2 separate regions of the Homo sapiens genome follow, and region 1 is linked to region 2. Evidence: fine-mapped expression QTL. Tissue or cell type: pancreas. Region 2 holds a variant in brackets; the other region holds the start of a gene. All regions are shown on one strand. Distances are from middle to middle.

What was found. PIP is the estimated chance that this variant, and not a neighbour inherited with it, causes the effect. A credible set is the group of variants that fine-mapping cannot tell apart.
Region 1: DEFB134 starts here. The variant in region 2 is the best candidate, but not a certain one, in a credible set for the expression of DEFB134 in pancreas (GTEx, PIP 0.68).

The regions. Positions count from the first base shown.
Region 1 is chr8:11,998,771-12,002,936 of GRCh38, reverse strand. It overlaps DEFB134 (defensin beta 134), which reads left to right and starts at 2,185. Exons shown (of 3, transcript NM_001302695.2): 1 at 2,185-2,229. It overlaps LOC105379245 (a long non-coding RNA gene), which reads right to left and starts at 804. Exons shown (of 3, transcript XR_001745644.2): 1 at 730-804. It also overlaps the pseudogene OR7E160P and the pseudogene LOC100421446.
Region 2 is chr8:12,027,262-12,031,427 of GRCh38, reverse strand. It overlaps the pseudogene OR7E160P. Among named protein-coding and RNA genes, the nearest start is that of DEFB134, 29 kb to the right of the region's middle. RefSeq lists an enhancer at 1-174. The variant C/T (reference allele first, on the strand shown) is at 2,547.

The sequences.
Region 1 (4,166 bases), 28 kb after region 2:
TATTCCAGTAATCTAGGACTTGATCACTAGTAGTGAGAACTAAAAAGAAAGAAGAGATACAAGGTGAATTTTAGAATTAGGATTGGCAGGATTTATTGGCCATATGATATATTGAGAAGCCATGAATGATGATTCTGAGATTTCAAAGCTGATAAAAAGATGGATGCCAATATAACTCACTAAACTAGAGAGGCAAGAAGAGAAAGTAGGTTGGGAATGTGGGGAGATTCAATAAAGAGATGTTTTGGCATAATAGGGTTTTAGTCATGTAAGGGATATGTCAGTCTACTAGGCATATTTACAAAAGTATAATTTTCTTTTTCTATAAATTAACTGAATTCCTATTAGGAACCTTATTTTGCCTGGTCACAGAAACTGAAACTTAGTCAATTCATAGTTGATCATATCTTCTCCAAGTTATTTTTAAGTTCCAAAAGAGGTAAGCAGTGATGAGGTATCTCGGAGAGCGTTTATTATGTTAACCTACTAAAACATCTTCATTCTCATCTGATCTTCTGTCACTAATCTAGGTACAACTGCTGAGTTCTGTCTCATTCTTATTTTTAATAAAATTTGTAAAGCTCTTTGGGTGAGGCCCATTCTTTGGTACATTGGTTGGTCCTGCTACTCAAGCATCATCCTAGGTCCTTAGGTTATAAGTAAGTCCCAATAAGGGCCACAAAATAGTATTTCTCTTGAACTACTTCAGAGAGCCCAGCCTCATCTCACCTCAAATTCTTTCTAAAAAGTCTTGCATCATGTCTCAGACGAGTCCTAATATGTGGCATCCACTATTTTTCTTGTCTGTTTCTCTGCCTGCAAGTGGTAATGTCCTGTTGGTAGTGGAAGCACTGGGGTTACCTCTCATTGTTGCTGTGGAAGCTGGTACCAAGTGTTTCTGATGCCTTGGCCCTTTGCGTCCCAAGACGTCTGTGAAAGAAAAGAAAGAAAGAAAAGAAAGAGAGAGAGAGAGAGAAAGAAAGAAAGAAAGAAAGAAAGAAAGAAAGAAAGAAAGAAAGAAAGAAAGAAAGAAAGAGAAAGAAAAAGAAAGAGAGAGAGAAAGAAAGAAAGAAAAAGAAAGAGAGAGAGAAAGAAAGAAAGATTCTTTAGCTTTTTCAGTGTCACTTCCTTACCATAGGTTCTAGCTCCCCAGGCCCTGGCATCTACTAATTCTTCCTGGCTGGCCCAGACTAGATTCAAAGTAGAATTTTTGCTATATTTCAGAACCCCTTTGTCCCAGGAGACAATATAGAAGAGTGGTTAATTAATTTGGGTTCTAGAATCTCTGTAAGACTTATCAGTCCCAGATGTGTGATTTTAGAAGAATTACTCAAATCTCTGCTTCAACATCTTGAAAATGTGAATTGTGAAAATGTCTAGTTAAGAGATCATTTGTAAGATTAAGTGAGGCAATATTAAAAAAAATACATACTACAATCCTTGATGCCTAAAAGTGCTCCAAATACCAGCTGTTAGGAATATATCTGCAGTAGTTCCCCACCCAGCCACAGTTCTAGTTACTTACAGTCAACCACAGTCCAAAATATTAAATACGCTGGGTGCAGTGGCTCATGCCTGTAATCCCAGCGCTTTGGGAGACCAAGGTGGGTGGATCACCTGAGGGCAGGGGTTCGAGACCAGCCTGGCCAACATGGTGAAACCCCGTCTCTACTAAAAATACTAAAATCAGCCAGGTGTGGTGGCAGGTGCCTGTAATCTCAGCTACTCAGGAGGCTGAGGCAGGAGAATCACTTGAACCTGGGAGGCAGAGGTTGCAGTGAGCCAAGATCACGCCACTGCACTCCAGCCTGGGTGACAGAGCAAGCCTCCATCTCAAAATAAATAAATAAATAAACACAAAATTCCATAAATAAACAATTCATAAGTTTTAAATTGCATGCTGTTCTGAGTAACACAAAATCTTGCACTACGCAGCTCCACACACCCAGAATGTGAATCATCCCTTTGTCCAGTGTATCCACACTGTAAACACTACCTGCCCATTAGTTATTGAAATCATATGCTTCTGAGATCCAGCCACTAACATCACCATGGCTCAGTGACCCAGCATCACCCGAAGGAGATGATCCCCCTTCTGAGCTATGGTCAGAAGATTAGCAATAGCCTAATGCTATGTCACAATGCCTATGTCGTTTTCCTCACTTCCTCTCATCACATAGGCATTATATCATCTTACATCAGCACAAGAAGAAGAGTGAGCATAGCACAGTAAGATATTTTGGGGGAGACAGAGTTCACATTCACATAACTTTTATAGTATTGTTATGATAGCATATTGTTATAATTGTTTTATTATTAGTTATTGTTATTAAAATCTTACTGTGCCAAATTTATAAATTTAACTTTATCATAGGTCTGCATGTATAGAAAAAAAGCACTGTATATATAGAGTTCAGTATTATCGACTGTTTCAAGCATCTACTGGGGGTCTTGGAACATAGCCCCATGAATAAGGAATAACTACTATATATTGTAAAGTTAAAGTATAAACCTAATATCTAGAGTTCATTTATTTATTCAACAAATATACCTTTGGCACTGATGGCCTGCTAGACTTTCAGCCCAATACTGGTGTAAAATGATAAATAAGACAGTCATGGAATCTACTCGGATTTCACAGTCTAATCAGAGACACAAATAATTGATATAGTAACAATTGTGACAAGTGCTATGAAAAAAAAAGGAATGGGTGCTGTAAAATTTGTAATGGGAAAGAGGACCATCTCTTCACAGAGGATACAGAAGCTGCTTCCTTCTGCATCTCCCACTGTTGGCTAGAATACATTTCTGTTTATTAGGATTGTCATTTGGAAAGGCTGCATATTGAATCTGTATGGCTCAGGGTCAGACAGGGACATTTCAATTGCAGCTGAGAGTATGGCAGTTGCAGAACAACCACAGATCAGGAAGATGAGAAGAGTAGCATGATGACCCTAAAGAAATACCAAACCCAGGAGGCAGAAGAAAGAGCCATCTAGTCCTAGCGTGGAGCATATTGTACTTCTCCATTTTCTAATCCCAGAGCACCATGTGGCCTTAGGGGAATATATGGATGAAAAGAAAAAGCTGGTGTGCTGGTAAGCCACATACTTGTTTTCAAATGATGCGCACATCTCCCCTCTTTATCTCTAAAGTCTATGAACTAGGTCAGCTCCCAACTCGTGGCACCTACAGTGAACCAGACGCTGAGCCAGGGGAGGTCTAGATAACAAGAGACGATCTCTGACAGTTGCTGAAATTCTTCTTTACCTTTTAGAGCAAAACTCAGAGGCTGTCCTGTTCTGATATTTAAGTAAAATCACGAATTGCTGGTAGTTGGTGACCTAGTCAGTGAACGAGCTCCTTATCAATAGTGGGAGAATGATAGTAATAGTCCGTTCTGGGGAAAAGAATTTGGCACTGTAATGGTCTTGGGGTTTTTTAACTTTGGCTTTGTAAGCAACATTATTTTTGCTTGGGTTAAAGCCTCTTCCAGCTGTTTATCAACATAGATAAAAGTATATTGCTTTATTATTTCTCCTTGAGTCATATTCAACACTTTCTTTGCATGGGCAATGCCAGTATCCCACTGAGCATGTCCTCTCTGAGGTTGAGGTTTCCAGGTCTTTTTTTCTCAGAGTGATTGCTGGCTTCTTTGGGAGCCTCAGCCAGTAATTCTTTATACTGTTTATGACCTTTATACTCCCATACCTGCTTTTCATGAACCCACGCCCTCACTGGCTGGTTGCTAAGAAATTGGACATGATATGACCAGGCACCCCTTGTGTCAATTTTAGTATGAACTTCCAGCTGGGGCTCACTTGAGACCAAGGTAGGAACCTAAGGTAGAAATGATAGGTTCCTGCCTTGGGCTTTTTCTGTTTGGTAGGTTTTTTACTACTGATTCTATTTCAGATCTCATTATTGGTTTGCTCAGGCATTCAATTTCTTTCCAGTTCAACCTTGGGAGGTTGTACTTTTCCAGGCATTTATCAGTTTCTTCTAGGCTTTGTAGCATGTGTGCATGCAGATGCTCCTAATAGTCTCTGAGGGTTTTTTGCATTTCTTTGGGGTCAGTGGTAATATCCTCTTTCTCGTTTCTGATTGTGTTTTTTTGGATCTTCTTTTTTTAGTCTAGCTAGCAGTCTAAATAAGCAGACTTATTC
Region 2 (4,166 bases):
CCCAGGCTGGAGTGTCATGGTGTAATCTTGGCTCACCACAACCTCTGCCTCCTGGGTTCAAGCGATTCTCCTGCCTCCACCTCCCGAGTAGCTGGGATTACAGGCATGTGCCAGCATGCCCAGCTAATGTTTTATTTCTAGTAGAGACGCGGGTTTCTCCCTGTCAGTCAGGCTGGTCTTCAACTCCTGACCTCAGGTGATCTGCCCGCCTCGGCCTACCAAAGTGCCGGGATTACAGGCATGAGCGACCGCGCCCGGCCCGTGCTGTATCCTTATCTGGTGTCTGTTGTTGTTTGTTTGTTTGCTTTGGAGCCCAGAAATAACTTCTCACCTGTATGTTCAAATGATTTTTCACATGAGTTCTAAGAAAGCTCATTGGTGGAAAAGCAGCCTTTTCAAGAAATGGTGTTGGAGAAACTTGATTTCCACATGCAGAAGAATGAAGGTGGACCCTGTGTCACACCACGTGCAAAAATTAACACAAACTGGATCAAAGACCTAACCCCAAGGACTAAAAGTATCATAAGCCTAAAAGAAAACATTGGCCACACTTTCATGACATCAGATTGGGCAACGTTCTCTGGGTATGACACCAAAAGCATAGGCAACAAAAGAAAATTAGATTCCTTGGATTACATCTAAATGACAGACACTTTTGTGCAGCAAAAAACACTGCAAATTCAGAGAAAAGATAACCCATGGATTAGGAAAAATATTTGCAAAGCATATATCTGAAAAGAGGCTGATATCCATCATATATGAAGAACAGCTAGAACTAAACAACAAGAAACCCAAAGCATCCCATCAACAATGGTCAGAAGACTCGAGTAGACGTGTCCCTAAAGAAGATATCGTAATGGCCAATAAGCATCTAAAATGATGTTCAAAGTCACTCATCATAGGGAAGCGCAAATCAAACCAAGAATGTGACACCACACATTAGGATGGATATGATAAACAAACAGGTATTGGTTAGAACAGAGGGAAGTAGGAATGCTCGAATGTGATCGGAGGGAATGTAAAACCATGAAGGAACCGGGAAAATAGTATGGCGTCTACTGGAAAAATTAGAAACAGAATGATCAGATGTTCCCACAGTTGCATTTGTGGGTACCTGCCAAAAAGAATTAGAAGCCAGGAGTGGAAGACAGATTTGTGTACACCCATATTCATAGCACCATTATTCACAACAGCCAAAATGTGGAAGCAACCCAAGGGTTCGTAGACAGATGAATGAAAAAGCACACTGCAGTTCCTTCATACAATGGAAGACAATTCAGCCTTCAAAAGGCAGGCACTTCTGGCCGGTGTGGTTGCTCACGCCTGTAATCGCAGCGTCTTGGAAGACCGAGGTGGGTGGATCACCTGAGGTCAGGAATTCAAGACCAGCCTGGCCATCTTGGTGAAACCCTGTCTCTACTGAAAATGCAAAAAATTAAATGAGCGTGGTGGCGTGTGCCTATAGTCCCAGCTACTCAGTAGGCTGAGGCACAAGAATCGCTGGAACCCGGGAAGCGGAGGTTGCAGTAAGCCCAGATTGTGCCACTGCACTCCAGCCTGTGCGACAGAGTGAGACTCCATGGGAACACAAAACAAAGCAAAGTCAAACGAACAAACAAAACACAAACAAACAAAAAACAGACAGGCACTTCTGACGCAGGCCGCAACATGGATGAACCTTGAAAACATTATCGTCAGTGAAATAAATAAATCCCAAAAGGATAAACAGGCCCAGGCTCAGTGGCTCGCAACTGTAACCCCAGCACTTAGGGAGGCTGAGCCAGGCGGATCACTTCAGGTCAGGAGTTCGAGACAAGCCTGGCCAATATGGTGAAAGCTCGTCTCTATTAAAAATCCAAAAATTAGCAGGGCGTGGTGGCGCACGCCTGTAATCCCAGCCTCTCGGGAGACTGAGACACAAGAATCGCTTGAACCCACGATGTGGAGGTTGCAGTCAGCCCAGACTACGCCACTGCACTCCAGCCTGGGTGACAGAGAAAGACTGTCTCCAAAACAAAAAAATTAAACAAGGTATGATTCCGCTTATCTATCAAGTGTCTAGAGTAGTTAAACTCATAGAGTTGCAAACTAGAAAGGTGGCCTCCAGGGGTGGGCGAGAGAAAGGAATGGAGAGCTTGGTGAATGGGTGGAATTTCCATTTTGAAAGATAAAACTGTTCCGGAGACGATGGCGGCGACGGTTGCTAAACAATGTGAACTTACTTAATGTCGTTAAACTGTAAACTGAAAAAGAGTGGAAACTGTAAATATTTATACAGACTATTCTCTATGAACTAATATGTATTTATAATTTTTAATATTTATACGTGGTATATTTTCCCATATTAAAAGATGAAAATTAAAGCAGTTGGATGTTTAAAAAGTAAAGAAAGAAGTGAAGAATACCCACCAGCTTTCTCCTGATTAGAGGAAGAGCCCCAAAGCTTCTATGGACACTCACTTTTCTCTTCTTCTTCTTGCAATATTATGAGGAAATCCTTAGAGGTTGGGGAACTTGGGCGACTTTGGCTAATGAGGAGCTCTGGG[C/T]CTTGAGCCCCCCAGCCCACAGAATAGTAAATAGTCTGTGCCTCCAGCCCTGCAATGTGAGGTTGCAGTCCTGTGGGCTCCACTCCCGTCACCTGTATCAGGGGGCTGATGACTCACCCTGTCTTCTTGCCAGCCTTGAGGACGGAGTCTGAGCCTCCATGGTGCACCAAGCAGGGAGGACAGTTGAACCTGTTCTCCATGGTCGTGGCCCAGCAGAGGGGAAGAGCAGTTCAGTGAATGTAGGCAAAAGAAAGTGAGATCAGACACTTACTCTGTCTATGTAGAAAGGAAAGACATAAGAGACTCCATTTTGAGAAAGACCTGTACTTTCAACAATTGCTTTGCTGAGATGTTGTTAATCTGTAGCTTTGCCCCAGTCACTTTGAACCAACCACTTTGACCCAACCTGAAGCTCACAAAAGTATGTGTTGTATGAAATCAAGGTTTAAGGGATCTAGGGCTATGCAGGACGTGCCTGGTTAACAAGATGTTTCCAAGCAGTATACTTGGTAAAAGTCATAGCGATTCTCTAGTCTCAATAAACCAGGAGCAAGATACTCTGTGGAAAGTCGCAGGGACCTCTGCCCTTGAAAGAGGCGTATTGTCCAAGGTTTCTCCTCATGTGATAGTCTGATAAGTGGCCTCATGGGAGGAGAAAGAACTGACCATCCCCCAGCTCAACCCCCATAGATCGTCTGTGCTGAGGTGGATTAGTCAAAGAGGAAAGACTCTTGCAGTTGAGAGAGAGGAAGGCCGCTGTCTCCTGCCTGCCACTGGGAACTGAATGTCTCGATATAAAACCCGATTGTACATTTGTTCAATTCTGAGATGGGAGAAAAACCGCCCTATGGTGGGAGGCGAGACATGTTTGCAGCAATGCTGCCTTCTTATTCTTTACTCCACTGAGATGTTTGGGTGGAGAGAAACATAAATCTGGCTTACATACATGTCCAGTCATAGTACCTTCCCTTGAACTTCATTATGACATAGATTCTATTGCTCACATGTTCATTGCTGACCTTCTCCTTTTTATCATCCTGCCCTCCTACTACATTCCTTTTTGCTAAAATAATAAAAATAATAATCAGTAAAAACTGAGGGAACTCAGAGGCCGGTGCCGGTGCAGGTCCTTGGTATGCTGAGTGCCGGTCCCCTGGGCTCACCGTTGTTTCTCTATACTTTGTCTCTGTGTCTTATTTCTTTTCTCAGTCTCTCATCCCACACGACTAGAAATACCCACAGGTGTGGAGGGGCAGGCCACCCCTTCAAGTGAGTGCTGAGGGACGGTCGGGAGCCTTGTTTGTTTCCTCATTCTCAAGACAAACAGGAGAGTGCGGTGGGTAGATGGGAGGAGACCAATATGCAACTCTCTGCTCAGCAGACTGTGGAGTTTCTGTTCTTGGTTGTGGTGGGGGTCTCAGAAATCTTATTCAAAATTTTGCTTTCCTCCCCCACTGGTTGTCCTTTTCATAGATATCTCACCCATGATAGCAGGGAATCAGTCCCTCTAAACTATTCCCTAAGAACAACAAAAAGATTATGAAGGTGATGATGAGGATAAAGAGGATGACGACAGACACCATGGCATCATGAACCCTTACTGAGGGCTTCCTAAAGGCC